Homo sapiens: one gene and its partner. The protein of the gene in region 1 purifies or fractionates together with the protein of each later gene. This does not show direct contact. Each region holds a gene or a part of one and is shown on either strand. Other genes may lie near its edges. The genes, in order: OR52N4 and RBP1.

Region 1 (3,971 bases):
AGTTTATATTCCTTATATAATTGGCTTAGTTTATGAGACATTAATATGAAAATACTATGTTCTATAGTTTCTCACTTGTTTTTTAATTTAGATAAATCTTAAATATTAGAAATATATACCTAATTTTCCTTATTAGATTCACAATTAGAGATAAAATGAAACAAGTAGATTTTGATCCCCTTTCATACAGGTCTTAGAAAAAAATTATACTGTTTTTTATTTTTGGTTAAGATCTCTACCTCTCTTTCCAGGCTCTGTGCTTTTTAAAAAGCCCCTTTAAAGAAAACGAAATATCCAATTATTCTGTTGTGAAATAATTATGTGACCTATTCAGCCTAATAATATTTTAGCTAGATGCTTAGAGACTTAAAACTCATTTTAGACTTTATGGCATGCACTCTAGATTCTCCTTCAGGAAAATGTCATTGAAGAAACAGGTTTTTGGTAGTTATGAGAAATATATAGCACATGTTTTCTAGACAAAAGTAATAACTGGCTATTAATCTGAAATATTAATCTGAAAATTGTGATCATTGAAAAGAAGACTCACATCATCTCCTTCTACTTAGATTTGTCTTTTCATAAAAAATGGACTCATTAGGTTTTGTCGAATAAAATATGGTTTAATTATTAGACTGGTCCTTCACATGAGTGAGAAGGTAAAAAATTTATAGAAATGTTGGTGGGCCTTCCAATGATGTTGAGATTCCCAAGGTACTTATTGAGAATGCACCAGTTAACAAACTCCATTTTGTGATCAATACAGTGCTTCCAGAAAGATTTTATGAACTCCTGCATAAGAGGCAAATAGAAGTAATTCTTTCCTTCTCTTCTCACTCCTGGCAAGTGTTCATTCACATGCTGTAGGATTTGGTATCCTTAGAACCTGAAAGGATCCTTATGACACAGTCTCGTATCTGTTTGGTTTTCACCCCATAGACAATAGGGTTCATAGTGGGTGGTAGGAGCAGATAAATATTGGCTACAATGATGTGGCAAGAAGGGGGGATTATGTGTTCCCCAAAGCGGTGGGAAAAGAAGGAGAAGAAAGCTGGAGTATAGGAGAAAACAATGGCACAAATGTGGGCAGTGCAGGTATTAAAGGCCTTCTGCCGAGCATCTGCTGAGGAGAGGCTGACCACTGCCCGGAGAATCATGGTATAGGAGTTGGTGATACACAGTATGTCAAAGCCCCAAATCAGGAGGGCAACCATCAGACCATAGATGGCATTGACCTTGACATTACCACAGGACAATTTGGCTACAGACATGTGGTCACAGTAGGTATGGGGAAGTATATTGCCTCTGCAGTAGGGCAGGAGCTTGGTGAGGAAAGTAAAGGGAATAATGAGTAATACCCCTCTCAGGAAGGTGGCAGTCCCAACCTTTGCAATTACAGGATTGGTGAGGATAGTTGAATAGCGTAAGGGGTAGCAGATGGCCACATAGCGATCCAGGGCCATAAGCATAAGCACCCCAGACTCCATCCCTGTGAAGGTGTGGGTGAAGAACATCTGGACAAGGCATTCATCAAATCCAATGTCCTTGAGATGAAACCAGAAGATGCAGAGGGCTTTAGGGATTGTACTAGAGCACATAACAAGGTCAGTAAAGGAAAGCATGGCCAAGAAGTAGTACATGGGTTTGTGCAGGGCATCCTCATAGTGAATGAGGTAGAGGAGTCCACAATTCCCTACCATAGCCACAACATACATAGAGCAGAATGGGAAGGAAATCCAGAGTTGTGTGTCTTCCAGTCCTGGGACTCCATTCAGAATAAATGAAGCTGGTATTAGGTCTGTTTTATTCAGTGTTAGCATGATAAGTCTGGTAGGTTATGAAATAGCTCAAAATTTGTCTGGGCTTTCCTAGAGTTAAAAAAAAAAACAAGAGAAAATATAGGTTATTTTTACTGTCTCCCTCTCCCCCAACTTTTAAAAATTCCATAATGCATTTTAATGGTCCAACAACCAAATTTCTGAGTGCCAAGAAATAATTTTGTTTGTCTGTTTAGTTTTATTGATTGATTAATTAATTGATTCAGTAAAAAATTCTTATTGAGCAGTCTAAGTTTTCAACACAGATGCCAATCAAACATCAATTATTTTATAAAAAGACATATTCCCAATCTCATAGATTTATAATCAAGTATAATTCTGACTTTTCAAATGGTATTTTTATTAGAATATCTTACTTAACTATAACTATACTCATCTCAATATAGATATAATTTTAAAGAAGAGTCATTTGATTACCTCACTGATGATCTGAGAGATGAGATGTTGACTTTTTAATTTTTATTCTTAATGACTGACTGATATTTATTCTTGGGTACTCAGGCACTGTTCAAAGAATTTTGAAATTTTAATTAAATTATTACTCAATGAAGCTTGGGGTCTCAAAAATTAGTAAATTTATTGGGTGTCTATACTCAATAATAATTTAATTGTATATTTTAAAATAACTAAAATAATATAATTGGGTTGTCTGTAACACAAAGGATAAATGTTTGAGATGATGGATACCCCTATTTACTTTACTGGGATTTTTTTTTTTTTTTTTTTTTTTTTTTGAGGCAGAGTCTTGCTTTGTTGCCCAGGCTGGAGTGCAGTGGCGCAATCTTGGCTGCAACCTCCACCTCCCGGATTCAAGCAATTCTCCTGTCTTAGCCTCCCGAGTAGCTGCGACTACAGGCACATGCCACCACGCCCAGCTAATTTTTGTATTTTTAGCAGAGATGGGGTTTCACTATATTGGTCAGGTTGGTCTCCAACTCCTGACCTCAGGTAATCCACCCACATCAGGCTCCCAAAGTGCTGGGATTACAGGCATGAGCCACTGTGCCCGGCCCTTTAAAAGGGATTATTACACATTGTATGCTTCTATCAAAATATCTCATACACCCATAAATATATACACCTACTATGTGCCCACAAAAATTTAAAATTAAAAAAGTCAATGAAGTTTTGATTCAATTTTTTCACTTTTCAAGATATCTTTCTTGTTCTTTATGTATCTAGTCAACGCAAACTAGAAGATATCCAAATGCATACATACAGAAAATATATAAAGTACTTCAACAACATCAGTAAGAAAAAGTTGCAGGAAGAAACATACACTTCAAAAGAGAAATAAAATTGCCAATGAACAGGTAAATAGGCACAAACTTTTATATTAATCAGAAAAATAAGTAAAAATTGTATCTCTCATGACAAAGCACCTTTTTTTGGTATGTAGTGACATACCAAACAGGACAGCTAAAATGAAAAGAACTAAAAATACCAAGCATTGGCAAAGATGTAGAACAACTGGAACTCTCATTTACTGCTGGTAGACATGTAAATTAGAACAACTCTTTATTAGATATCTCATAATGATAAACATACACATGACCACCATTGCCATTTCCAACAAAACTATGTATATATATTTACTAGAATACATCAATTAGAATGCTTATTGAAACATGATTTGTAGTATAGCCTAAAACTGGAAAAAACCTAAATGTTCATCAACATCAAATGGGTAAATAAATTTTGGTACATTCCCACAATGAAATACCACGTAACAATAAGAATAAACAATCTATGACTATATGCATAATATAGACGAATCTCACAATATGTGTTAATTTTTTTTAGAAAGACTTAAAATAGATGTAACATCTTGTGATCTTTAAATGAAATACAAAAACGGATCAAATTATTCTGTGCTATTAGAAATAGAAAAATCTTTTTAAAAAGTGAGAGAGAGTGATAACTGAAAGGCAGTATGTGGTAGAAGGGTCCTGTTAGTTGCTGGTCATATTCCCTTACTTGATTTGGTTGTGAGATATACAAGATTCAGGTTGTAAAAATCAATCAACATGTAATTGGATTAATTGTAAAATTGCATATGTATGTTAGAATTTATAATAACAAAAATTAAATTGCCAAGAGGATTAAAGGACGTAATATGTTAAAACATGCTAC
Region 2 (3,827 bases), on another chromosome or scaffold:
TCTCAGACACATTAACTAGCATCACAGGTGCCCTAAAAGCAGCACCTGAAGAGAGAGGCTGCAAGGCAAAGGAAGGGCACAGTGGTGGGATGGGGAATCAGGATGGGATCAACAGAGCAGATAAGCCTGGGCTGGGTCTTGACCAGTGGGTAATTCTCCTCCTAGAGGAAGAGGCAAAGAAATACCTCAGAGAAGTGAGTAGAGGGATGCAAAGAGGATGGCAAGTGAAGGCACTGACAAATGATGGGATGGGGCCAAGCATAAGGAGTGAGGGAAGGAATAGGGCTGGAGAGACAGGCAGGGCCATGATCTGAAGAGCCTGAGTGCCATCTGGCTTTTACCCATCAGCACTGGGAAGCCCTTGGGAATTTTGAGCTGGGGAGTAGCATGATCAGATTCCCTTTTTAGAAAGGGAGGGATGGGCTGAAGTGTTGAGCATGGTAAAATGGAGATGAATGTGAAGATACTGCAGTAATTAAATGAAATAATCCATGGAAAGCGCTGAGCCTGGCACACAGTAAGCACGAGAGATGTTAATTGTTATTATTATTACTGGCACGAGATATTCAGAGCAGTGGGAATGAAGAAAAACAGGAAGAGACGTTAAGAAGCAGAATCTATGGAACTTGGTGACTGAATGCCTATAAAAACTTTTCATTTATCTTCATAGTGATCATTTACACGGCTACATAGTGGTCTATGGAATTAAAAAGCCAGTCTTTCTAACCACCCATAGTTATTTGATATTTAGGTATACCAGCAGGAGACAGCCTGTTCTATAAAAACCATACAAAGTAGGGAATCAGAGACATCCGAAGTGAGATCACAAATCTATGGTTAATCAGTAATGTGAACCTGGGCAGGACCTTTGGCTCCCTGTCTGTAAAATGGGAGAGTAGCACCTCCTATCCAGGATTGTTAGGAGATTAAATAAACATAAAATGACAGGGCAGGGCCTGCCGCATAGTAGGCCCTGAGATAGTGGTTATGCTTCTGTGGGTTGTTGAGAATTATTATCACAGAGTGACTAACAGATACCTTTGTACAAATAGAGTGATTTTCCTGGAATATAATCCCATAAGTGGGATCCCTGAGTCAAAGAGTAAGATGATTTTCTGATTTATTGCACATTGTGAGAAGATTATTATTATTATTTTTTATTTTCTTAGTGCAGGACCAGTTCCACTGTAAAGCTGGCAAAGGTAGGTTTTGGAGACTGGGTTCCATGCCATCCCCACCTTCACACCCATCTTGTTTATACCATTCTTTCCCAGAGTATTCCTATGCTATCCTTGGACCCTCAGTTCAGGAAAGACAGAGGGAAGAAAGAGGGAAGGGGTGGGAAGAGGAAGGAAGAAAGGAAGAACGCACTAATCCCTGTATTAAAGGTAGCTGGCACCCTATGGTGTTTGCATTCTTGGAAACTACCTGCCACGTAGTGAGGAAGCCCAGGCACCCAGCAGAGAGTAAGTGTGGGTTAGCCATCTGGAAAGTGGATCCTCTACCTCCCCACTGGCAGGGCAGGCAGCAGGGACAAGGCATCCCCACTGAGCCCTGTCCAAATTGCAGATTTGTGAACAAAATAAATATTGTTGAGTTAGGGTACTAAGTTTCAGAGTGGTTTGTTACACAGCAACAGGAAACAGAAATAATTCATCACCATATTTAATTCTCACATAACTCCATTAGGTGGGTATTACCCTTGGCTCCTTTTACAAATGAGCACATTGAAGCTCAGAGGGATAAAGTACCCTTGCCAAGGAAACAGCTGTACGGCAGAACCAGGATTCAAATCCAGGTCCATCTCAAAGTCAAAGCTCCTAATTGCTCTGTTGTACCTCACACCTGTCCAGCTGCACACACTATTGGTATCACTTACTTGGACCCTCAATTGCAAACCACTGTGGGCTGCTGCAAGATTGAGGTCCCCAGGCAGTCTTCATCCCCCACTACCCTGATCCTGGGATGGAGCTACACCTACCTATTCTCATTCATCCCCTAGAACTAGGCACATTTTACCCCAGCACAGGCTTATTACATTGAATCATGATGAGAAAAATCACAGGAAACTAGGCACAGGCCAGCCTGCTTCCTTGTTTTTCTTTGTTAGTAGTTATCAAAAGCATGGTCCTTGAACCAACAGCATCAGCATCATCCAGGAACCTGTTAGAAAAACAAGTTCTCAAGCCTCACCCCAGACTTTCAGAATGAGAAATTCTAGGGGTAAGGCATGCTCAAATTTGAGAACCACTGCTCTAACTACTTATGTGGGTCTTAACGCTTGATATCTGGAGTTTGAATGTCTTAGGATGTTTTCAGATGCAAGTGGCAGGAAACCAATTCACATAACTTAAGGTGAAAGAAAAAAAATGTATTGGTTGAAGTACATGGAAAATCTAGGAATGGTGCGTCAGGAACTCTAGTAACCCTCTAATGTTGCATTCTCTCTGTCTCTATTGGCCTCATCTTTTACTTTCCTTCAATTGGATTTTTCCATGCAGCTAAGGAAGGTGGGGTAAGGGGACTGGCCTCAGAGAACACCAAGCTTACATCATAACAGCTCATCAACCTTTAACGGAATAGAACTCACCTGTCTCTCAGGGTTCCTAAATTAACTCCCAGGAAATGGTGACTGGCCCAGCTTGGGCCACATACACAAGTATGTGACAGGCCACGGGACACTGTGATCACCCTATCAGAAGGTGCTCTTCCCAGAAGAGACAGGGTACTATGATTTGCAGCCCCACCAGGACCCAAAAGGTTGAGGAGGAGTAATTCCCACCATAAAGAAAACAGTGCTTCTCTTGGGTGGGAGGTGGAGGAACAATGTTGGTCAGAAAAACAAACAGCTGTAATTCATTCAGTAAATACCTGGCCATCATAAGTGATTATGCCATGCCCCTCAGTCTCGGGTATCACAGGCCCTGGCCCTGTTCTCACATAGTATTGTGGCTTCCCAAGCTCATGTGCCCTGTACTATCTCTATGGTCCTCAGCTTTGCCTTGTGAGACACGCTGAGCAGCAATTATGATGCCCGTTTTGCAGATATGAAAACAAAGGCAGTGTGTCTAATCATTTAAGGCCGCTGTCAGATAATCGAGAAGAATTCAAATAGATGTTCTGACTCTAATACCGGTGCTCCTTTCACTCATCCTAGGCCTTGTCAAAACTGCCTGGGTTTACCTTCAGACTGTGAGAAGGCTCACAATAAGGAACTGAGGTGCTGGCCTTCAGCAAAGCTCTGTGGGAGACCTTGGGGTAGAGAGCTTTATAAACAGACTAATTAGAATTCTTCCTCTGCCACCAGCTAGCCCAAGGGTGACCTTGGGCTAAAAAGGCACTTCACTTCTTTGAGCCTCAGATTCTCATCTGTGAAATGAGTATAATGATACTTACTGAACAGCATTTGTTGTGGGGACCAAAGGAGAAAAAGTACAAAAAGCAATTGGGGCAGGCATGGCACTTAGTAAAGATTCAGTACATGTTATTTTCCTTTGTTCCTGCCTAACAAAACCCAAAACCCAACAAAGCAGTGTGATTTTTGAAAGCTACTTTGTGAATTTTATTTGGGTTGCTTTAATTCTTCTTTTTGTAATCCTCAAAAGCACGCTGCTGACACCGATTTCAAAGGTCGGAGAACTTTAGCTAAGACATGAAAGAGATCCTGTGTTTCTAGCCTGGAAAGGGCCCAGCTGAATGCCGGGTGCCTGATCTGGGCAGGGGCAGCTCTCAGAGGCTCCCACATCCAACGGCATTCTCAGCGCTGCAGCCCAGGGAGTTAATTTAGCCAGTGGCATTGTGTGTGCGTGTGTGTGTGTGTGTTTTTT

Evidence for each region.
Region 2: the proteins of OR52N4 (region 1) and RBP1 purify together in Homo sapiens (affinity purification with mass spectrometry; one large-scale study listed by BioGRID and IntAct). This does not show direct contact.

Annotation. Positions count from the first base shown.
Region 1 is NC_000011.10:5,752,590-5,756,560, reverse strand, and holds OR52N4 (olfactory receptor 52N4), read right to left. Parts: upstream 2,319-3,971; 5' UTR 2,256-2,318; intron 1,869-2,255; 5' UTR 1,821-1,868; coding exon 855-1,820; 3' UTR 603-854; downstream 1-602. UniProt on the Homo sapiens protein: Odorant receptor.
Region 2 is NC_000003.12:139,529,459-139,533,285, forward strand, and holds part of RBP1 (retinol-binding protein 1), read right to left. Parts: intron 1-3,827. UniProt on the Homo sapiens protein: Cytoplasmic retinol-binding protein. Accepts retinol from the transport protein STRA6, and thereby contributes to retinol uptake, storage and retinoid homeostasis.